Homo sapiens: one gene and its partner. The protein of the gene in region 1 purifies or fractionates together with the protein of each later gene. This does not show direct contact. Each region holds a gene or a part of one and is shown on either strand. Other genes may lie near its edges. The genes, in order: ENPEP and FRMD5.

Region 1 (12,899 bases):
TTCTGTCCTGAGGCTATGTTTTCATTTGTGTTTTTATTTAGTGCTTTTCCAACATTTGAAGTGCCTGGGACATTATGGTTTTCAATAAATGTTTGTTGAGTGAATATGTAAAATCTGCTGTACTCTTTTTCTGTGGCTGCTGTAACAAATTACTACAGACTTGGCTTAAAATAACAGAAATGTATTCTTTCACATTTTTGGAGGCCAGAAGTCCAAAATGAATATCACTAGGCCAAAATCAAGGACAGCAGGGTCATCTTGATCCAGAAGCTGTAGGGGAGAATCTGTTGCTTCCCTCTTCTGGTGACTGCCAGCATTCCTTGGCTTGTGGCTGCATCACTCCAATCTTAAAGACCAGCACCTTCAATAGCACCTTCAAATCTCTCTCTGCTCTGTCTTTACATCACCTCTGTCTGTGTGTAAAATCTCTCTGCCTCCCTTTTATAAGGACACATGAGATCATATATTAGGACCTATCCTAATAGTACAGGATAATCTTCCAACTCAAGATCTTAAACTTAATCATATCTGCAAAGACACTTTAAAAAAAACTATATTTTGTAACATGCACAGGTTCCAGGGATTATCAAGTGGATATCTTTTGGAGGGGGGCATGTTTTTTTTTTAGCTTAAGGCAAAAGCATTCTAAAAAAGTCATAAACTGAAAACAGAAGAGATGCTAAATAAAGAGAACAGCAACAGGAGAAATAATGTTTCTATTATCCATATGGATGACTTTGATCATCTTAATGCAGTTTAAGTCTTTACTTCCAAGGAAAACAAAAATTGAAGACAACTTTATTTGGTTAAAGTTAATGTGGCAATAAAGAAATTTTCAAACCAAACAGCTAGCACTAATAAATAAAAATTGTAAAATTATAGGCCTTTTCTTTGAAATAAATAATTAATATTACCTAAGGTAAAGAAAGGGTGTATTAGAATTTTTGTGGAGAACATAATCCAAAATAATCATTGCTAGTATAATTCACTTGGACTCTTTATGGAGTAAAAGAATATTGGATGAAATAGTTTCCCTATACCAACGTTATTTTTGCAGACTTCTGCAGATAGAAGAGAAGAAAATATTGCCAAGAATTCTGATACCATAAAGGCTGAAAGGAAATGTTGAGTAAATTAAACATTTCAGGAAGTTTTAAAACTCTTCAGAATACAGAACTATTATTTAGTGCACTGAAAAAATATATATAATTTCAAAATTCTTAGAACAACAGAAATCTAGACTATATTATCACTATTATTTTTCTCCTGCTGTTTTTATATCCAACCACTTTCTCCCAATGCATTATTGCACATTAGGGAACTCAATACAAATGCAGTTAAAAATTATAGGAATCATAAATTTTTTAGTTTTATTTTGTTTGCTTTTCCAAATATTTTCAAAATCTCTACCTGCTGAGAACAAGGCAGGGCTTTACATATATGCCTTTAAGAATATTAAGAATATTCACTATTATTTCTTTTAAGGCTTACATTTTGAAGTTTATCTTAGCATTCCTTACCTAATAAATATTTGTTGGAAAGTAAATATTTATTTAGTCAACAAATATTTGTTGAGTTATTGAATGAATGAATAAATGAATAAATAAATAGTGGCTAAGAAACACTTTTCTGGCAGCAGGGGGTTGGGGGGCAGGGGAAGAAAGTGAAGTGAACAGATTCTCTCTAGAGTGATCCAAATGGCTAACAGGAGCATAATTCTTGCTTGTGAAATGACATCTCCTGGCATTCAGGGATTAGTGGTGAGAGACATTATGAGCATCAGTCTGGGTATCCCAGAAAACTGCAGAGAATTCTCAAATCAGCCTGGAAACAACAAGGAATAGAGAAGATAGAAACTTATTGTTTCACTGATTTTTATTTTTATTTTTTATTTTTTTGAGACAGAGTCTTGCTCTGTTGCCCAGGCTGGAGTGCAGTGACGTGATCTCAGCTCACTGCAACCTCACCCTCTGGGTTCAAGCGATTCTCCTGCCTCAGCCTCCTAAGTAGCTGGAATTACAGGTGCCCACCACCACGCCCAGCTAATGTTTGTACTTTTAATTGAGACAGGGTTTGACCATGTTGGCCAGGCTGGTCTTGAACTCCTGGCCTCAAATGATCCACCTGCCATGGCCTCCCAAAGTGCTGGGATTACAGGCGTGAGCCACCTCACCTGGCCTGATTTTTATTTTTTATTAAATTATGTTTGGTGTGTTTTGGAGGTTTATTTTCCTTCTCATCTATTTTGAAAGTCCTCCTTTTTCCTCTCCCTTTCCTTTGCCTCTTGTCTCTTTCTTCTTCTCCTTTTCCTCATCTTTCCTCCCTCTCCCTTTATTGTGCCAGTCATTGGACAAATTCATCATTTTCCCACCAATAAAAATTAGATGTGGCATGCTGAACATTTTATGTCTTAAAACTACTCCTGACATCTGCATCAGTTTTCAGCTCTTGGAAAAAGTTAATCTAGTTCACTTAGTCTTAAAACCAACTGAACCTTTTAAAACAGTTGTTGACGCCAAATAAAAGATGACAAATAGGGCACAGGCATTGGAAATACAGGTGAATTTACCAGCATCAGAAAGAACATGGCCAATATGGCTTTAGACCTCACGGTTAGCCAAGTCAGTTGCAATGACTCTCTCCTTTTTCAACTCTCACAGCTCACTAAACCTTTAAAGTTTGGAAATGGCTGAATTGACCAAGGGTGTTTATAGAATTTATGAGTTTAATAATAGTGGCCCTGTGGCAAGATGGAAAGAAACTGGTTCGGGCCCTCCTTGTTCCCTATGTATACAGCCTAATTTGCAGATTCTATTTCCTCCATTGTGAATCTAACTTGCCACTTTTTTTTTTTTTGAGACTGAGTCTCGCTCTGTCGCCCAGGCTGGAGTGCAATGGCATGATCTCGGCTCACTGCAACCTCCGACTCCTGGGTTCAAGCAGGATTCTCCCACCTCAGCCTCCCGAGTAGCTGGGATTACAGGCACCCGCCATCATGCCCTGCTAAGTTTTGTATTTTTGTAGAGTCGGGGTTTCACTGTGTTGGCCAGGCTAGTCTTGAACTCCTGACCTCAGGTGATCAGCCTTGAACCATAGCATTCAGCTCAGATCACTGATTAAAGGGCCAGCCAAATAATCACACAGTAGTGTTAATTGCTGACTACATTTCCTGAGATGCTCCTAGTGCCCAGGTGAGCCAGCAGCACATGTTATGGTATGGCTATGGCTTGTTTGTTCCAACGGAAACGCATGTTGAAATCGGATCCCCAGTGGCAGTGTTGTGAGGTGGGGTCTAATGGGAGGTGTTTAGGTCATGACAACTCTACCCTCATGGGTGGCTTGGTGCCCTTCTGTATTCTACAACAGTAAATGAATTCTTGCTCTGGCAAGACTGAATTAGTTCTTGTGGGAATGAATTAGCTCCCGTGAGACTGCGCTGTCATAGAGCCAGGATGCACCTTGGGTTTTGCAACTTTACACGTGTCTGCTTCCCTTTTGACCTTCCCTAACGTTGTAATGGTGTGAAAGCCCTCGCCAGAAGCCAAGCAGGTGCTGGTGCCATGCTTCTTGTGCTTCCTAGCCTACAGAAATGTGAGCTAAGTAATCCTCTTTTCTCTATAAATTACCCAGCCTCAGGTATATGTTATAGCAACAAAAAACAGACTAAGACAGCACCGTGTATACACAGAAGGCCCAATAGCTCTGTAGGATGTGTAATTCCTGGTACCTAATAGAAAAGCTTTAAATGGAAGCTGTAAGTGAAAAAGAGAGGTGCATACTTGGCCTTTGATGTTACAGTGAGTCTCTTGCATCAGTCTACCGCCTATGGGAAGGAATTTGCCAAGAATTTCCTCACCTACTCAAGATCAGATGTGATTTCCAGGTCTTCACCCCAGGGAATGTCTTTCTAGTCTTTTCTGGAATTCGAACAGAGTTTCTCTCAACATTCCTGGCACAGTATGTCTGTTAACCCCTCCCATTCTGGATTATTGTTTTTCCTTCCTCTCCTTGTTCATTTATTTGTTCATTTGTTATTCACTAAGCAATCAATAAACATTTATTGAGTATTGAATAGGGAACAGATATCTATTGAATGTTAAATAAGGAACAGGAGCAGATACTGGAATTTTAGTACTCAAAGTAGATCACGATAATGTATGTATCAAAAGGGATGGAGATTGTCATATAGAACCTACAGTAAACTGTTGTTCTTTCACTCCACTGGCTTGGACCTGATAAGTGGAAATTGACCAGCAGTAGTCGTTTGAAATTATTTATATCCAATGTAGATTCATTCAACGTAAGATTACCCAATATGGTCTATTTAATCTAGGAGGGTGCCTGTGATGGTGCACATGCTGGCCCTTCTACCTCTGCTCATCTGGCTGTATTAGGTCACCCTAATATGCTGATCCTCACAAGATGTGGTGCCCTTCATTGGATGCAGTCAGCTCACACAGGTTGGTACTAATAAGATACTGTGGCTAGAACTGGGCTGTGGACTCAAAACCTACACACACACACACCCCATATGTGGACTTAGGGTATTTTATTTCTTCTGGCAAAAAAAAATGCATTTAAATAGTATATTCATTATGGTAGAATTTCAGGCAGAGTAGTAGAGCTTTTTCATAGCAGGTGGCCATTCTTAATCTTCCTTAAGTGTACCCAACCCAAAGGTCTATTATCTTCTCTGTACATAAGACCTGGTGATAAGATTGTTGTCTTTGTAAATAAGGGCAAGTTTAAGAGATTTCATATATGTTTGCCACAAGGTCAAGTTTAAGAGATTTCAAATGTTTGCCACATCTGAGATTTTAAAAAATACTTCCAGTTTAACATAATTTTATGTACATTCTTCCAAATACTTTTTGCTTTTCCTTTCACTATGTTTAGGTAAATTTGAGCCACATTTTTGCCTTTCATTCCTAAGAAACATATCAAAATATTTGACCCATCAAACATTTATTGAAATGTCAGATGATCTTTTCAATAAAAAGAGGGTTTCAAGGGCTAAAATTCAGGAAGTTAATGTGCCAAACTTAAACATACTGTGATCTCAAGAAGTTTAGGGTTGCTTCAGAATGTAAAATTAATCAATACAAGATGGGCCTACAATTTAGAAAAACATATCCCTTTTTCCTTTAATTCTTTTTCTGTTACTACTATTTTGTGAGAAAAACAGCAGAAATGTTACAGAGTAAAATGGACCCGTTTGCTTTTAAAGTTTTGTTTTTTGTTTGTTTGTTTAGTTTGTAATTTAGAACCGTTTGAAACAACGTTTCTCAGAGTGTGCTCTGTGGAACAGAGGGCCCTCAAAAGGTACCTCACCAGAAAAAGCTGTCTTGTCAACTAAATGGGGAAAGTACTCCGTCGTGTTTCCTCTCTGAGAGGCTCACAATGTGTGTCACCATCTGGAGGCTCTGCAAGAATGGAGAGTAGTAAAAGAAGATTTTTCACTTTAACCCAGCATTGTTTGCTTGGCAAGTAGATCTGTTAATATCCATGGATTGTATCTGGGGAAATACCAAGTTTTTCATAGTTACTTAACCCTTGAATATTTATCCTCCTCAGAGCATGGAAGCAAGCAGTAGAATGCGATCGTTGATATATGGACTTTAATTTTTTTAATTTTATTTATTTATTTATTTATTTTGAGATGGAGTCTTGCTCTGTCACACAGGCTGGAGTACAATGGCACGGTCTCTGCTCACTGCAACCTCCGCCTCCCAGCTTCAAGCAATTCTCCTGCCTCAGCCTCCTGAGTAGCTGGGATTACAGATGTGTTCCACCACGCCTGGCTAATTTTTGTATCTTTAGGAGAGACAGGGTTTCACCACGTTGGCCAGGCTGGTCTCAAACTCCCGACCGCAGGTGATCCACCTGCCTCAGCCTCCCAAAGTGTTGAGATTACAGGCGTGAGCCACCACACCTGGCCAGATATATGGACTTTAGACTCAGACAACGTGGGTTCAAACCCCAGTTCTGCTATTTGCCAGGTGTGTGACCTTGAGCAATAGCTTAACCTCTCTAAATGTCAGTCCATAGCTAAGCTGCCAGTAAATATGAAGTTCATTGAGATTTTTCTTCCTGAGCTTGTCATTCAGAAACAAAATGATAGATTTGCATGGATGATGGATTTCCCAACAGGTCAATTTTCACATCTGGAATCTACTTTAAACGTGCTCTACCACATCAAAGTCTAAGGAAGTCAATCTCACTTGGAGGCACACTGCAGAGACAAGTAGGCCTTCTTCCTTGTCCCTCTGTCCTTTCAGACTTCTCCCCCTCTTGTTCCCTCTCTCTTCTTAAGCTTTCCAGCTCCACTACTGCTTTGGCTAATTTCTTTGGGTTCCCCCTCTCTCATTCACCCAGCACCAGCTGAACTGATTTAGGTTTACCTGGCTATGCTTTCCAAATCTAATTCGACAAATATTTACTGAGTACCTAGGTGGTCCTTGAATCACCCTGAGCACCCAATTCCAGGATATGACTTCTTCAAAGGACAGAATTGGAATGTTTACATAATATGAGGGAAAAAAAATAAAAGAAAACACTTAGCTTCTTTAGCAAGCTATCTGATAAAATAGCTGAAATTCAAGAAGCCCTTTAGTTAGGAGGGAGAGATTGCGAACACAACAGGAAGAAGCCCCAGGCTGAGTGGCAAAGGTTGAGATTTTCTATCGTAAGCACACCTCACCCAAACGCTTGCTCCCTGAAAGCTGCTGACGGAGCTTTGGCGAGGGCTCATCCTCCCGTTGGCTGATAAGCGAAGCCCTGTTTTATATTTAACTCGCTGCAGTGCAGGAGGGGTAGGGGTGGAGATGCGTCGTTTATAAGGGGAGCTGTGACAATCTTCTTGCCAGCCCTCTTCCTCCCACTCGGCTCCTCTTACGGAGTCCTCATTCCACCCCCCTTGTTTCCGCATTCATCCTGAGTGGCTGGTGGGAACGTGAAAAGGGAGAGGAAAAGGCGCAAGAAGCCAGAGAGAGGGGTGTGGGAAAAGCGAAAACAGGCTGCCAAATCAGGGGATTCCTTCCAATTTAAAAAGGAAGTCTGCTGACGTTAGTTAGTTAAATTTAACATCTTTTTATGTGTAACACTTGACTTTGGAAGCAAAAATGAACTTTGCGGAGAGAGAGGGCTCTAAGAGATACTGCATTCAAACGAAACATGTGGCCATTCTCTGTGCGGTGGTGGTGGGTGTAGGATTAATAGTGGGACTTGCCGTGGGCTTGACCAGATCGTGTGACTCCAGCGGGGACGGCGGGCCGGGCACTGCGCCAGCTCCTTCCCACCTGCCTTCTTCCACGGCCAGCCCCTCAGGTCCTCCTGCCCAGGACCAGGACATCTGCCCGGCCAGTGAGGATGAGAGCGGACAGTGGAAAAACTTTCGACTGCCGGACTTCGTCAACCCAGTCCACTACGACCTGCACGTGAAGCCCCTGTTGGAGGAGGACACCTACACGGGCACCGTGAGCATCTCCATCAACCTGAGCGCTCCCACCCGGTACCTGTGGCTGCACCTCCGGGAGACCAGGATCACCCGGCTCCCGGAGCTGAAGAGGCCCTCTGGGGACCAGGTGCAAGTCCGGAGGTGTTTCGAGTACAAAAAGCAGGAGTACGTGGTGGTCGAGGCGGAGGAAGAGCTTACCCCCAGCAGTGGAGATGGCCTGTATCTCCTGACCATGGAGTTCGCCGGCTGGCTGAACGGCTCCCTCGTGGGATTTTATAGAACCACCTACACGGAGAACGGACAAGTCAAGTAAATATTAATTTTTGCTTTACCTCCCTTAAGCTCACATATCTGCTTTCCATTTCTTTTCCTTTCCTTTTCACTTTCCGCTTTTAATTATTTTGTTGGTCTGATATTGATCGGCTCTTGGTTTCAATTCTGGCTGTCCATCTGGGAAGCCAAAATTGTTGCCCTATTGTATTTCCAAACCCTGTCATAAAACTTGAAAGTAGTGAATGAGCTTCGTAGAGTCAAAAGTCAGTGTAAGTCTTTTATTCCATCAGGAGAAATCATAATATACTGCACCCTATCTTGAAGATTTCCATAAATTATCTCAGGTTTGAGAACTGCCTTTGGTAAATTTCACTAGTGATATTCCCAGGCTATGTAGCAATATATATACAGCAATATATATGAACTTTTAAAGTGGTATTACACTAAATTTACGTGAAACATCAGTAAATTTCAGTTATTATTTTGTCCATTTTTTTTTTGTCCAATGTCTCTTTTTTGGAGAAGAGAGACATTGAAAAATCACATGTGATCCACAGAATTGTCTTTGTGTCTTCATCTGGAAAGGAAGACAGGACTGTGTTTTTTTCTGTCTCCGATGGCCAGGACCATGCTTTACACATAGGCTTTCAGGAAATATTCATTGAGTCCACACATCAGTGGCATAGGTAAATTTGGAGGCTTGTTGCTCATGATACAATGTGCAAACATAATGCTAAGCCTTTTACAACATAAAAGATATATTAAGTAGTTAAATACATACAAATATTTGTATACAAATATCTATCTAGATAGATAGGTATTTATTCCACTTTCCCACCTATTTGTCTAGCCTTTGTATTGATCAGTGGCTACTACCAGAGCTATGTTAAAGGCATAAACTCTCTCATTGAACTCCAAAAACTTCCTTCACACTGTGGATGTAGCCCTTGCATCAGGGAGGAAGGCTACACTACACCTTGTGTTGTGTCTGGACTGCTTTGACCTTTGCTGGCTTAGATTCTGAAGAGGTAAATGATTAAGAAAGCTTCTTGTCACAGTTTAGAGATGTGAGTCTTGGGCCAGTCCACCCACAAATATCCCTTTTTTTCTGTTGTTTTAAGCATCTTACAGAGCAAGCAAATTTTTTGGTCAAAATTCTTTCTATTGTTTGTCAGACAGACCCACGGACTAAAACAAAACATTTAAATATTCCTATATTCCTGTGTGGTAAACTGATAAATTGAGTAGAAGTGATAGTTTGAAGAAAATATCTGTAGGGGTCATGCTTATATAGATCTTATATCTTAATACTGCTAGCAAAAAAACACTCTTACCATTTACGTATTTTTTCTGTTCATAAGAATTACATCATTGAAAGCATAAAAATTATCAAAAAGGATAATCAAAATAATCTGTAAAATAATTTCACTGCCCAGTGGTAATCCCTGCTAGCATATTAATGTATATTCTAATGTTTTTCTAGGCAATCAAACCTTTAATTGCATTATATCTGTCTATCTATATGCCTTTTTTACTTAATGTCTTGAGAAGTTCCCCTTATTCTTACATGTTTTCAAGAATCTGTTTTTTGTTCTTTATTGAGACAGGGTCTTGCTATGTTGCCCAGGCTGGTCTTGAACTCCTGGACTCAAGCAATCCTCCTGCCACCACTTCCCAAAGTGCTGGGATTATAGGCATGAGCCACTGCACACAGCCAAGAATCTGATTTTAAAGATGTGAAATATTCCATTGTTTGAATACATTGTAATTTTTTAAAACAAATTATATTGTTGAGCATTTGAGTTGTTTCTAGTATTTTATTATTATAAACAAATCATCAAATAACATACTTCTAAATACCTCTTTGTATGTGCATCTGTTTATTTCCTTAGGTTAGGATATAGTCCTAAAAATAGAATTGCTGGGTCAAAGTGTACAAATATACCAAGATATTGTAATAGTTACTTTGTTTATTGATAACATAAATAATACACGTTTATTGAAGGAAACTCAGAAAACAGAGAAAATTATAGGAAAACATAAATTCATCCATAAATTCTTTACCCAAGTATAGCCATTGTTAACATTTAGGCAGAGACTCTTTTAGTACTTTTCTGGACATAGATAGCTGTGGCATAATTATATTATACATAGTAATGTGTAACATGCTTTTCCAATATAGCATCAATGCTTTAAGATGTCATTTGATGTTCTTCCACAAATGATTCGATGGATACATGGTAGGCCATTGTATGACTACAATGTAGTTGATTCACTTTTCCATTAAATATGAGTATTTAAGTTGCTCCTATTTTTTCACCTATAAGGATCTAGAAGAAGGCGCATCCTTATATTGACTATCCTTGTAAATAACTATTTATGGACATTTTCTAATATTTAAGAAAATTCCTAGAAGATGGGCCAAAACTACCTGTGTATAAATGCATGTATGTCTGTGTATATATGTGTACATGCATATACATATATATGCATGAACATGTGTATGCATGTGTGTGTGTCTCCAAACTGACTTCCAAAAAATATGTCCCAAACTCCATTTCCACCAACAATGTATGAAAGCGACTATTCCTCTGAGCCTTACTAACAATACAATGATTTTTTAAAAGTGTTTGCCAATGGTCGAGGGAAGGGCAATATTCTGAAGAATATCCACCTTAAAGAGATTCTAAAAATTCATTGAAGTGAAAGCGAGTCAAGACTTTTTAAATATTATTGCTAAAACTTTAAAACTGCTTCTTAGATCATAAAGACAAGAGAAATTTTATCTGAATAAAACCATCAAAATATTTATAAAATAATAAAATAAAATTTTACACATATTAGGAAGGCCAAAAATTGGAACTATGTAGTCTCCATTAATAAGTTTCTATTATGTACTTTATAAGTCTAAAAAAAGCATTATATACACAAATACTCTCACTCTTTGAGTTATTTTAGTGTACCAGTTAATTTTGCCATAAAATATATACCAGAGAGCTGCCCTTCTGAAGCTCAGTTGACTTAACTTTTGATTGGAGATTACGAAATGATGGCAACATCGGTGAGGAAGGCTGATGCTCAGTTCAGTTCTCACTGAGGATTGGTGTTCCCAAGTTTGTATGTTTCATTGGGAGCAGTTGAAGCTCTCACATTACAAAAGATGCTGCCAGTTCTGTACTGCACACACATGGTTTTGGAACAGATCTGGCGTCAGCTCAATAACCTCATTTAGGCTAAATGGAATACTTTTTGTTATCCTTGTCTGAAATATTTCAAGCATATGAGAAAAGTGCATCATGCTTTTTTTTCTAGCCTGTGAGTAATATTTTGGCAATGCAGCCTCTAGGAGTTCTCATCCACAGGCTCCATATAAGGGCCACCAGAGGGAGTTCACTGGGGGCAGTGCCTTTCTTTCATACTATAGAGTGAGCTTCGTCATATGTGACGTTTGTATCATTTTAAACGTCATCATAGTAATACATTTGAAGTACGGAGTCAAAATTATATTTTCTGACCTTAACGTAAAATGTAACTCCAGGATTGAGTATTAGTAGTTAGGGATATTAATGTGACAACCACAATGCAAACTAAACAGGATTGCACTCAGTAGTAACCAAAATTACTTAATTTCTGCAAATACAATCAGGACTTTGAGCTTCACAAACTTCACAGCTACCCAAGTTGCTTTCTCTCAAGATTGAGACATGGGGAAGAAAGGGGACAAAATTTAGAATTCCACATTGTCTTTCTGGGGACAGAGTTGTAGTGGGGCGTGGAAGGAGAAAGTTTGAGAAACATCCAGTCGCTTTTCCTTTATCGATCTACCTCTTCCTACTCGCTAGTCTATTCTTCAGGGTCTGAGGAAAACCACTTGGAAGGATTGGAACCTTTGGAATGTTTCTCTGACCACACCCTCCTTCTTCCCATTTTCTCACCGTGTTACGTAGGATTTCCAGCTGTTCCCTTCCCTAAAAGAGTTTCCCTCTACTCAAACTCCAAAGTATATATTTTCTTCTCTCCAAGATTTGGCTTTTCCTTGTCAGCATTTGGATTATGCTTACTTAGCACTTCCCAAAGTATGTACTGCAGAATTCTAGTTGCATGGGGATCTTAGTAGATATTACCAGAAAAATAGCAGGGGAGAGATTCTGTGGCTAAATCAGTTTGTGCAATAATACTAAATACAAAATGATCTGTTTTGGATTTTGTTTTTAATTATGGAACTTTTCAGAGACTTTTTTTTTTTTAAAGAGATGAGATCCAGGCTGGGGTAGAACTCCTGGCTTGAACTCATGAGTTCATGAGTTCAAGTGATCCTCCCACCTCAGCTTTCCGAGTAGCTGGGATTACAGGGTTTTCAGAGGCTTTTATATGATAATGTCCTCTATGTAGTTTCCCAACTCTCTGTGACTATGGATTCTTCTGTGGGGTTCCTAAGAGTAGGGATATATGTCTTTCCTTTACTGTTTGGCACACAGTGAGCACTCAAATATTCTCAAATGGAATAAATGAAAATATTATCATATAAGCTCTCACATGACTAGTATCCTCTGGCAAATGCTGGGACACATTGCATTACCACAGCTTCTCTCCCATAAACGAGCCTAACTTCCACCAATAACATCTCTACATTCCCACTTAGGGTGAAAATTTTCCCTTGGTTCCTTTTCTGCCTACCCTGTGGAAGGGAAGAGTTTATATGTGTATGTATATATATTTGTACTTAGGAATGCAATCTCCGTAGTTTAAAGGCAGAGAAACAGTGGAATTGACAGGAAGTACAACCGGAATTTTAGAGATCATTTCTAGTTTGGGCTGCCAAGGTGTTCTTCGTAGCGCTAGTAGGATTTAAGCTGAATTTTGATGTTCTGGTGGGAGTTCAGCAGCAGAGACAAGTGAGAAACTAAAAGCAGGCAAAAAGGAAAGGCACCAAGTCAGAAAAGCAGAGTGGGGACAAGAAAATTAGTTTGTAGGGGAAGTTTATATGAACAGGCTAGCTAGATATCACTGAGGAAAACCCTTACGGAGGAAAAGGAAAAATAGCCATGATAGGCATTATGAAGGAGAAATTACCCCATGACTTTTTGGATACAGATGGCAAAAGAAAGAGTTAACTCAACCATCCACTTGGATATATGAAAGATATTGCAGCAATCCAGGAAAGAGAAGA
Region 2 (12,223 bases), on another chromosome or scaffold:
AGCCATGTGTCTGTGGTGCTCTCACTGGCTGCTCCCTCTCATCCCCACTGTTGGTCCAGTGAGGTGGACAACAAAGACGTGTTAGGTTTGCTCCGATATGTAGACAGGAGTACCAACTTTGGGGTCTGCCCTGGCACCAGTACCTCTTTTAGCAGAGACAGACAGAAGTTCAGAGCTAAGGCAAACACTCTGGAGATCATGAGTGGGGCAGGCTAGTGGTATTTTAACAAAACTCTTGAAAAAAATTTTTTTTTGAGACAGAGTCTCACTGTGTCACTCAGGCTGGAGTGTAATGCCGCAATCTTGGCTTACTGCAACCTCCACCTCACGGGTTCAAGTGATTCTCCTGCCTCAGCCTCCCGAGTAGCTGGGATTACAGGCGTGATGGCCCGGCTAATTTTTGTATTTTTAGTAGAGATGGGGCTTCACCAAGTTGGCGAGACTGGTCTCGAACTCCTGACTTCAGGTGATCCGCCCGCCTCAGCCTCCCAAAGTTCTGGGATTACAGGCGTGAGCCACCACACCTGGCCTGAAATTTTAAACATAGTGGTTCTACCCTTACTCACCTACCTAAAGCCTTAGGGTGTCTATGATTTGGATGGATTTGGTTTTCTGAAGCAAAGCAAGAGCCACCTCCACTTCCACATAGATGAGCAGAGCCTGGGGCTTCTATGCCTAGTAAGAGACATGAGATTTGGTTCTAGCTACACTCTTCACTGTCTTCAGTGCTTCAAAGTAGGTGGGTACACGCTGCCCTATGCATCTGCAGGAAACAAGCCTTCCTGAAGAGGATCTCCCTCAACTCCCATGTGAAGGGCCCATGCCGAAGAAGCCACTTTTCTCCCCTGTCCCACTTCCTTGTTGCCTTTGTACTGATAATGCCTGCTTCTTGGCCCCCTCCTCTCCCCATTTCCTGATTTCCTCTCTTAGAGAAATTTTTGCTCCTTTCACCTGGCATGCTCTTTAGATCAGGAAATGAAAATAATTCTGGCCGGGCACGGTGGCTCATGCCTGTAATCCCAGCACTTTGGGAGGCTGAGGCAGGCGGGTCACGAGCTCAGGAGTTCGAGACCAGCCTGGTTAACATGGTGAAACCCCGTCTCTACTAAAAATACAAAAATTAGCCAGCCGTGGTGGCAGGCGCCCGTAATCCCAGTTAGTCAGGAGGCTGAGGCAGGAGAATCGCTTGAAACCAGAAGGTGGAGGTTGCAGTGAGCTGAGATCGCGCCACTGCACTCCAGCCTGGGCAACAAGAGCGAAACTCTGTCTCAAAAAAGAAAAGAATTCCATATTCTTTCCTCCTTCTTCCCTCCTCCTTTTCTGTCTTTGGAATTTTCCCAAGCAGTTAAGGATCTAGGAGTGGATCTCAAAGCCTTACAGGATAACCCGTCTATATGGCTGGCAATATCCTCATTCCCACCTTTGCTGTCTCCACGGTCTTAGGGAAGGGGTTAGAGCTGACAGTCCTATCTCTTCCTCAGCTCTAGGATTCCCTGGCATCACATCCTTACCTATGGTCCTGCCTTCTACAAAGTAACATCAAGGTTTTGCTTATGTCAAAATTAGGTCTTTCTAATATAAAAATTAGGGATCCATGTTGTAGAGTTCTTGAATCTCTGAGGTGAGACTTTCACAGTAAATTTCGCTCAGATACACAAAATCCTGGGGAAGCTTTGAAGCTCTCACTCACTGACCCTCTTTTAGGATGGCTGTGGGCACAGAGGTTCTTTTCATCCTCAAGTGGCGCTGGATGAGACAGGATGCATTCCACGCAGCTGTCGGCCTGCCACAGAACATGATCCCCACAATAGTTTATCACGAACCTGATCCAACAGCACCACAGAGTTTATCCATTTTGATTTTAAATCTTCAGTATCTCCCAGCTTATCTTTCAGTGTTATGCCTTTGGCATTTTCCAAGTATATCCATTAGACCACTTGAATCTATTTGCAACCTCCGAAATAAGCAGCAACATAGCTCTCTCCAAAAATGTCCACAGTGGCAACATCATAGGTAAAAGAAAAGACGCTTCTGATTAGTTACTCCAGAGCCCTTTGAGAGTGACCAGTTCAAGAGGTAGTATTCACACTTCTTGAAGGAAAGAAGTCCACTCTGTTGCGACTGCACTGAGGGGTACGCGAAGAAAGCATGTGGAAATGAAATACAGAAGTCATTATATTTAGGAAGAGTTCCTTGCCTCTAAGAGTTAGGCGCTTCCAAATGAGAGGCTCTAAGAGGTCACCATCCCCCTTTCCTATGCTCTCCAACAGGTCCTAATGGCTGCGGGAAGCATGTTCACCTCACCTGGTTATTTCTTCTTTCAGAGCAGCAGGGTCTGCAGGATAAAACTTCACACGGAAGCACATGGTGAATGGAGGCTGGGCTGCAGAGAAAAAGAGGTGCTCATCAGGGAAGACTCTCACCCAGAAGAGGACAGGGCTCTTCTGCCCACTAGCATGAAGCAGCAGAAGAGAACCCTCATATATTTAGGGCCAACTTATACTCAGAACAGTGGGAAATTATATATGTAGATCAAAACTTGAGATAAGTGGGAGGTTTCGTCCCACCCTCCCCAGGGGTGTGGCTTGAGTCTTTTCATGGAGAATACTTACATCTCAATTGTTTCACCACAGACTTTGTAAATTCCAGCCAATGCTGAAACAGAGAACACAGAACATGAAAACCCTAATGAGAAGGGCTGTAAAATATAACTTGTTTTCTCCAACTTAAAAAACTAGACAGATTGTAGCCTAGGGTGAAAGCAGCCCAAAAGCTTATGAAAGATAAGTTTGGTGAGTAAAGAGTGATATGATTTTCTGAAATGAGCTCCCATGGAGCCAGCTGTGAAGGGGGGAATAGTTCCAGCTTCAGATGCCATTTATGGGCTTCCCTGGAAATGCTGTCTTCTAAAGCAGGGTGCCAAAATTCTGAGCCATGTTTTTGGCATGCGATTAAGGCACAAGCGACTGCATGTATGTGTGGCGGGGACAGAGCCCCACCTGGGTTGAGTCGGGAAATACTGACTTTAATGGGTGGTGTGTGTTTCTGTTATGCACCAGCTTTTTTTTTCTTCTTTTTTTGGCAGGGGAGTGGGAATAGAAGATTTTGGTAGCAACTCTAGAAAGTAGTGAGAAGTGGAAATTTCCTAAGTCAGGGATGGCTGGTATATATTCCATCTTTCTTTGAGTAACATAAATTGCCAACCCTTGTGTTAGAAAACACATACTCAGGATTCCTTGGCATCCAGTGATGTTTTAAAATCTAAATCTCAAATGATAACTAACCACAACCAACGTGTAGGATAGTACCTTCTTCCCCTTGGATTTTTCAAGGAGGCAGGACATAGAGGCAGAATACATTTTCCCATGGTACTTAACGTCTGGGGGAAGCAATGAAACCATTCTATATGTGTTCCTTAATTCTACATGGGTCCTTTATAAATTTTATTATTGATGTTTGTTGCTTTTTGCTAATCAAGATTAGGTAGGACTGCTATTAATTGGAGTTTGATTATCCAGAGGTAGCTTAACATTGCCAGATGTAAGCTCCATGAAGGCCCAGAACTGTCAGTCTCGTTTACCACTGTATCACCAGTGCCTAGCACAGTGTTCAATAGGTAGCTGCTGAATGGCAAAGGGACTGGGCCCATACTTCCTTCTTTTCTGGCTACTTCAATTTAGTGTAATGTCTTGGCAGAGTCCTCCCTCTGGCAGGAGAGCAGCCAGGGCGCTGCAGTCAGCATCCTGGCCTCCCTTGATTCCCAGTGATCACCTTCTGGGCTGGGCCATGGGTCATGCAGTTAATGGACCCACTAAGAGCCAGTTCTTCTGTCAGCTCCACATGGATAATCTGGACTGACATTCTGCTCTCCTGCTTCTGCTGATCTGAGTTCCCACGAGGCTGGCAACTCATTATAGCCACTCAATGTGGTTAAGAGGCCCTTCTCACATTACACGGCCCACCGCGGCTCAGCTTCACAGGGAGGCAAAGGCAAGAGATGAAATTGCTCAGAAACAACTGGGGTTCCAGGGTATGCCTGTGAAGACGGAGGAGGCCTATCTGTTCAGAGCACACTGGAATTGTGGACAGTGAGGAGAACATAGCCAGTGCCAGGGATTCAGTACACAGAACAGCAACACCCCCAGACATTAGACTGATAGATTAAAAGAAATAAACAAAGGAAGGTAGAAATTAATGACTGTGAGATGCATTATCAGCAGAGGGCAGATAAAGCTGAATGACAAAAGCCTATTCCCCTTGACAATAGCTAGAAAGAAGATTTTAGTTTTATTGTAGTGAGAGCTCAAGAAAGGACTGAGGCTGGAGGATAGTAGCAAGGGGTGAGAAGGGACTGAAGAGCTGTCACAGCTGATCCATGGGATTTGGAGTCTGGCAGAGAAATCTTGAGAGGAACCCAAGAATATGGTGATGGCCAGAGTGGCTTTTTGCAAATGCCTGACCAAATCGGTCCCAGATTCACTAGCAAACAGACAACATGGGCTTAGGGAGGAGGGATTAAAAGAAGAGGAAAAGAAGATTCAGAGAGGAGGGTTTCCTCCCCTATCTGAGTGAATGGGCCAATGTGGCACAATCTTCAGACTCTAGGGGCTTGAAAGGGTACAAAGCAGAGGCCAAGAGAAGGTGGAGGCCCTGGGCCCGAGTCAGGCATCCTGGGGAAGGAAAGTAAGGGCAGCTCCTCCAGGAGAGACCAGGAGAGCTTGCAGATGCATGGAGGCTCCTGCAGAGCAAGGACTGACATCGGATGGATGTAAGTGCTGGGTTCAGACTGTCTTGAGACCCAGGGAAAGAGGTTTATTTTAGGCCCTTACACCCTGAGGGAGCAGGGGAGCTCAGCTCCTCCATCCCTACCATGAATCAGTGGACTAAGGACAACTCTCTACAGGTCCCCATTTCCCTACAACCCTCAGTTACTGTCTCAAGCCTCTCTGCTCTCCTTAACCCCTCCCGCAAGGCACAGAATTACACAACTTTCAGAGGCTATCAGTTATACATTCAGCATGGAATCTCAGAAACCACACTGGCCCTGGAGTCAAACAGGTCTGAGCTCGAGGCTGGCTTTGCCACTGACCTGGGGCAAGTTACTTAACTTGTCTGAGACTTTATTTACTCATCTGGATAACAGATATTATCATTAGGGATACTCATCTCATTTTGTTAAGGATGAGATGGAATAACATACGTGAAGCTCTTAGCTTAGTGCCTGGCACGACTCAGTGAGCAGTATACATCAGCTGGAAGAATTAGGTTTGTGTGCAGCGCAGAGCCTGGCAAGCAGTAGGAACTCCATAAATGTTTACTTCTCCTCTTTCCCATGTTCTTATCTCTCTCTAGTTCCTTCTCATTTTAACCTTCACCACATCCACATATTCTCTTACTCTCCTCAAGCACATTCTGACCTAACTAAAAAACCAATGAACAGGATACAATTCGCCTTTTTTTCTTCATATACCACCACTCTAGGGGATGAAGAGATCTTGGAGTAACTGGCCCTCCTTTTTTTTTTTTTTTTTTAAAGACAAGAGTCTTGCTCTGTCTCCCAGGCTGGAGTGCAGTGGTGTGATCTTGGCTCACTGCAACCTCCACCTCCCGGGTTCGAGTGATTCTCATGTCTCAGCCTCCCAAGTAGCTGGGACTACAGGCACATGCCACCATTTCCGCGAATTTTTGTATTTTTAGTGGAGACGGGGTTTTGCCATGTTGCCCAGGCTGGTCATGAACTCCTGGGCTGAAACAATCCGCCTGCCTTAGCCTCCCAAAGTGCTGGGATTACAGGCATGAGCCAGTGCACACAGCCAGCCTTCCTTTTTAAGGATAAAAGTTTGGACCAAACAAAGAAACACCATCATTACCTCTCTACTTTGGTGGGGATGCCAGAGAGTACATCTCCACAAAGAGCAAAGGGTAGATGAAGGGAAGTTATAGAAACTGCAGGTGTCTGCAAGCTGGGAGGCTGGGCAAATGGACGTAAGAAATACAACACTATAAGCCATTAACTCACTCATGCATTCATTTCTTCAGAAAATATTTATTGAACACCAACTACATTGTAGGCCTGTGCTAGTTAAATGGGAGATAGTGATGAATGAGACAAAGTCCAGGCCCTCATGGAACTTACATTTTTGCAGGGAACACAGGTAATCACAGAATGATGTAATAAGTGCTATAACAGGGTAGCAGAGGGCACATGGGGGCCCATAGGAGGATCCCTAATACAGAGTGGGGTTAGGGGAGATTTCCCAGAGGAAGTAAAAGTCTAAGCTGAGACCTTAAGTGTGAAAAGGAGTTAGCTGGAAGAAGGGTGTGGAGTGTGGAGCGGTAAGGAAAAGGAGAAGATTCTAGGCAGGGGAACTCTATAGGTGAAGGCTCTGTAAAGAAAGAAGGTATGATGTATCTGGAGGGCAAAAGTATTACTGTCTGGCGGGACCACAGCAGGTTGGGGAGATGAAGCTGGAGAAATAGGCAGGGGCCTGAGATGATGGACTTGTTCCTGAATCTGTCTGGAATATCAGCACCCTTGGCTATCAGAATGCCCTGTGTCTGCAGAGCTGCCTATGCTGTGTAGAGCAGAGCAAGAACTGCAAGATCTGCAAGGTGCTGAAAGGCCCGCGCTGGTTTGGCTCTGTCTGTACTGCCTAGATTGGGTTGGTATGGCACCTTTGGTGAGGCCTTTCCTAACCAGTACAATGTGCTTCAGCCTGCTTACTAGAAAGTGGGCAGGAGAGGCTCACCCTGTGACTTGGGCTCCGAGACCACAACTCCAGCCCAGCTGCTCTGCCTCCAACTTTGTGCAAATCATTTAAGCTCCCTAGCCTGCCATTTCAGCAACTGTAAAATGACAAGCTTCTCCAGGTGAGCTCTAGCCAAGGTGCCTTCCAGGTCTAATGCTATGATCTGAAGAGACGACATCCAACTGCAGGGTCTGGTTGGTCCCTGATTCCTGAAGCTTGACTTTGAATATGAATGACAGTTCAAGACCTCAGTCTTATTGACTAGCCCTGTCCTCCTTTTGTGCTTTGAATATTGACTTACCCGCTGCTTATCTGGGTCTACAAAGCGGATACCAAAATAGTCTTTCTCAAGTAGGTTCAGATGGTGGCAAAGAAGGTCAAACAGGTACTGGCCTTTGGCATCTCTCTGCAAAGAAAGAAAACTCCATTGAGAAATGAGTGGGTTTCTTCAGTGTAACTTTTTTTTTTTTTATAGCCATTAAAAGTTGTTTGTAACTGTTGCATGTGTCTATGAAAGGGGTGAATGTCCATAACTATGTCCTCCACATTGTGATACATCACTCACTGTCTGGAATCCAGAGGCTTTTAGCACCTGGAAGGAGCCCAAGAACCCTTCCCACCACAAAGATGTCAGAGAAGTCAGGGTAGAGTCAGGTAAGCCCAGTTCCCATCTCAAATGCACAGAGAGCTTTCTTAAACTGTGGGTGTAGGGAATGTCAGTGTGGAATACAGCAATAATTACACCAGGCCCAGCTGACTGAGCCTCTAAAGTAAATCTTGAATCCATTCACTTCTCTTCCTCTCTGTTACCAACACCATAGGTCAAGCCACCACCATCCCTCAACAGGACCACTGCCAGAGCCTTCTAACTGATCTTCTGCCTTTGCTCTTGCCCTTTCAGTCCATTCTCCGCACAGCAATGAGGGTGTCCACAATTTAGACATCATCTCTTTCTTGCTGAATAAGTGATCAGGCACATTGTAGGATATTTAAACAAACAAAAGGATATACTATGAACAGTAAGTCTCCCTTCCACCCTGGCCACCCTGTGCCCCAGTTCCTCTCCCTAGAAGCAACTGTTATCAGCTTCTTGTATATCCTTTTTTTTTTTTTTTTTTTGAGATGGAGTCTCGTTCTGTCTCCCAGGCTGGAGTGCAATAGCGCAGTCTTGGCTCACTGCAACCTCCACCACCTGGGTTCACACGATTCTCCTGTCTCAGCCTCCCAAGTAGCTGGGATTACAGGCATGTGCCACCACGTCCAGCTAATTTTTGTATTTTTAGTAGACACGGGGTTTCACCATGTTGGTCAGGCTGGTCTCTAACTTCTGACCTTAGGTGATCTGCCTGCCTCGGCCTCCCAAAGTGCTAGGATTAAAGGTGTGAGCCACCATGCCCAGCCCTCTTGTATATCCTTTATGTGATGTTTTATACACAGGCAAACCTACATACATATACATCTCCTCTTTTAAAAATACATTTTGTAACATATTTTTAAGCTCTTTTCTCCCACTTAGGGTATCCTGCAAATCCTTCTATGGCAATATATATAGATATGCCTCACAGTTTTTAACTGCTGCATGTCACTGCAATGAATCTAAAATTATTTACCCAGTTCCATATTGATGACATTTGTTTCTAATTTGCTATTACAAACAATGTGGCAGTGAACATACAATGATCTTTATGTTACTCACTTCTCTTAATTCTTGTTGCTCTCAGAATAAAATGAAAACTCTGATCATGGCGTCCCAGGCCCTATACAGCCTGGCTTCTCTCTGCACTCACCCAAAATCATTTTCCTCACTACACTTCAGCCATGGCCTTTCCGTTCTGAACTCCCCAAGGCTTTTCTGCCACTGTCTTTGCATTCCCTCTGCCGGGAATGTTCTTCCTGCAGCTCTCTGCAGCCACTCCTATTTTTTGAGGACTCAGCTCAAATGTCCCCTCTTCAGAGAGGCCTTTCCCTATAGTACAGCCCTTCCCAGTTACTTTCCATCTCATTTTGCCATTTATGTCCTTCATAGCACTTATACCAATCTGTAATTATCTTGTTGATTTGTTTAGTTATCTATTTACTATCTGCTTCCTTTCTAGACTGTAATTTTCATGAGGTCAGAATCCTTCCCCCAGAACTTAGCACAGGGCCTGATGCATGGCAGGCAGGTCCTCAATAATTATTTGTTGAATAAATTACTGAATGAATAGAAGGGAAAAGGTTTGCTAAAAGATTTCACAAAATGGTGAAAAGCTAGGCCGTTTATAACCCATAACCTTCTACTTCAGAGACCTGCCTGGATGCCAAGGGTGAAGTGGGAGGAGAATGACTTGCAGGAACCTGTCAAAACATCTGGAGCCTGCACAGCATCCATCGCTGGCCTGTCCCCAGTGGTCTCTGCAGCTCAGTTCAGATGATCATCTCTGGCGGGTCTATGTCTAATTTTGCATACAAATTGAGGTTGTATGAGGAATTTCTGTAGTGTAGTGGTTATCACGTTTGTCTCAGAAATTGAGGTTGTAAGATAAGATCCAAAGATCTCTCCTGTGCCAAGGCCCAAGGCCATGGGTAATTACAGAAGGGCCTGGCCCTGCCCCAAGAATGAGCATATTTTAAAGACCTTCACAAAAGGTTTACACCTCACCTCTTCCCCTTCTGCTAACTCACCACATACTATCCAAGGAGAACTAGGGCAGGATGCTGATCTCGCGGCAGTTATGTTAAGAAGTTTGTCCTTGCAGGAGCTGGAAGAATAGGTGAGTAGACAGCTCAACTACAGAAGGAGGCAACATGTGGGCAACACCCCTCCTCTTCTGAGACAGGAATAATACAGGGTGGTCACAGGAGAATAAAAATTCCAGACAGCAGTTTCACATGACTAGAGGCTATGGGCTGATAAGACCCTGAAAAACAGGGCATAGACCAAGCTAGCTAAGACCCACTGAACCCAATGTGTGGCTGGATTTGACCTAGGTTTCTCCTAGGACCTCACTATAAACTCGTTAACATACTAGATCACACACCTACCAGCGCCAGGACTGTTCCAAGACCACCCATATTTGCTGTAAAAATAGGTGCCACTGCAGTTATGAGAAATCTCTACCTTTTCCCAAGAATTTTCTTGAATATTCCACCCCTTGGTTAAAGAAACCCATAAAGACAGAAACCCCAAACCCCACTGAATGACTCTCTCAAGTATGCCTACGCTCCCTTTTCTTGAATGTGTACTTTGCCCTTTGCAATAAATCTCAATAAATCTCTGTTCTTTTACTATTTTCTGACTCTTCCTTGAATTTCTTGAAAGAATTCTTATCTTCTCAATGGTGTCAAGAGCCTGGACACCAGGTGGGGTGGAGGTCTCACTGGCGTTTGGGGACCTCCCCCAGCCCACTGGTATCACTTCTGCTAGCCTCATACTCCCTCTCACAACATAAGCCTGAACTCGCAGGCCCTATTCCTCCTGTCTTTGGTCCCCTACAGGAAAGAGTGACTCTCAGGACAGAGACTCGTTATGAATCACACTGGGACTTCTGGGTGGTGGGCCACAAACCAGGTCTTTCAAAGGACTCCGTCAGAACTTTCTTTGTGCAGGGCCTATTAACTACTTCTTCACTGATGCCAAGAGAGTGAGAAGAGCTTAAAGAGGTATTTCAGGTTCTCTGGGAGCAGAGGAAACATGTTCCACTCTATCCCATGCAGCATATCCTATACTATTATCTCTCTCAGAGCAACTGAAATGGAACAGTGAGAGACAGTAGCATATTTTCATTGCTTTTCTCTACAAATTTTACTTTGCACCAAGCTGGCTTTTACATTGTGATCAGCTGGTGCTTTTTTTTTTTTAATGAAAAAATGTTTTTCACAAACACTACTACAGTATGATGTGAGTTTTACGGGCTGAAGAAGTTTGCTTCCATACATACAACAACCAGATTAGCAATGGGACAGAGATAGCTATAGGGAAAACATGCTTCTGTGATGGAAATCATACAGACTTTTAATAAGAATCCTGCCTTTCATAAAACAACTCATTCTCATGGGCTGCGAGTTCAGATGCACTTGTAAGGCTCTTAGCTGGTAAGAACCCTGAACTTGGTAGATCCAACTTCAGATTTCTTCCACTTCACAGGAAGAAAAAGGAAGCATGGCTTTTCTCTTGGAGTAGTTAGGAAATAAGGATATATCCCACTACCCATTCCCTACAGCTACATAAAAAAGACCTTTTTCTGGTTACTTTTCAGCACCTGGTGAATCCCCCTGCTCCCCCGCCGTGAAGACATAGTTCCCTCAAGTTCCCATTTACCAGTTACCAGTGTTAGATGCATTGTTTTGAGCTGCAGGGCTCTTGCATAGACTAATGAAGAGAAGCATCTTCCTTTGCTCTTTCTCCAAGGCTGGGGTGGGGGTGAGGGGAATGAGGAAAGAGGTAGACATAGAATTCCATGAAATTTAAATCCCCAGTAGGTATGCAAAGGTAGAATCAACTTAGAGCTCTGCGCAGAGGCACCTTTCACAGAGGGTTGCGACAAAGCCCTTCCTTTGAGGCACTCACACCTGTGGCTGGTGGAGTGGCCTGAGGCAGCACTGGGTGAAATCACATGCAGCTGAACCATCATGATGGGCTCCCTACAAGCCAACGGCAGGGGCAAGATTTTAGGAATTTTACAACTTCCTGGGCTTGTGGATCCCCTTGCACTTCCTGATGCCAGCTGCGTCCTGGGATACCCTCTCCATGGTCTCCCAGTCCTAAGTCCAGGGGTTTCTGGAATATTCTGTGACAGTCAGTCTTTTCTTTTGATGAGATGGCAAAGCCGTCTTCCCTTCCCTTTGCCTGCAGGTGCCCTGGCACTGTGGCTAAACTGTGCGTTGAATGTTGTGCCATTGATTATACCGGAGAAACAGGCACTTGCGCTGACAGGTGATTACTGTTTAGTCACAAAGTCAGAGCTCCAAGCCTGAGGACATTTATCTTCAGGACAAGTGAGCTGAGGCAGAGCACCCAAATCCTCACCCTGCAGCTACTTCTGAGGTTATTCTCTTCCCAAAGACATTATTGGATCAAAATAACTTATTAAGCACTCGTTTAAAAAATAAATTTATATTTTATGAACCACAACAGTGCCTATACATATTTGAAAATACTAGTGCATATAGGTACAACCCATTTATTCTCTCTATATGGTGCACAGAATGATTCATGAGCCTCTTGGAATCACTGTGCAGCTCTGAGGGTGGGATAATTCCTATTTTTGCTCCTCCCTGGAACGCCTGGTTCTGGTTCTCTATGGTTTGCCTATTCTTTAGGGAAGGGACTGAGGTAGCAAGCAGTAAGCAAGCTTGGGCCAGTGACCTAAACTATTTAAGGTTAATTGCATTTTCTGTCTCATCATCGATATCCATGGGCAGGAGAGGAGCTTTATTTTAACCCATCATGGATGAGGTTAATCCCAGGCTCTCTGGCATGCAGCATCCTGATG

Evidence for each region.
Region 2: the proteins of ENPEP (region 1) and FRMD5 purify together in Homo sapiens (affinity purification with mass spectrometry; 2 studies listed by BioGRID and IntAct, with this or other methods). This does not show direct contact.

What each region holds. Positions count from the first base shown.
Region 1 is NC_000004.12:110,469,294-110,482,192, forward strand, and holds the start of ENPEP (glutamyl aminopeptidase), read left to right. Parts: upstream 1-6,861; 5' UTR 6,862-7,121; coding exon 7,122-7,765; intron 7,766-12,899. UniProt on the Homo sapiens protein: Regulates central hypertension through its calcium-modulated preference to cleave N-terminal acidic residues from peptides such as angiotensin II.
Region 2 is NC_000015.10:43,917,155-43,929,377, forward strand, and holds part of FRMD5 (FERM domain-containing protein 5), read right to left. Parts: intron 7,156-12,223; coding exon 7,051-7,155; intron 2,656-7,050; coding exon 2,613-2,655; intron 2,384-2,612; coding exon 2,305-2,383; intron 2,127-2,304; exon of another isoform or gene 1,695-2,126; intron 676-1,694; exon of another isoform or gene 571-675; intron 1-570. UniProt on the Homo sapiens protein: May be involved in regulation of cell migration. May regulate cell-matrix interactions via its interaction with ITGB5 and modifying ITGB5 cytoplasmic tail interactions such as with FERMT2 and TLN1.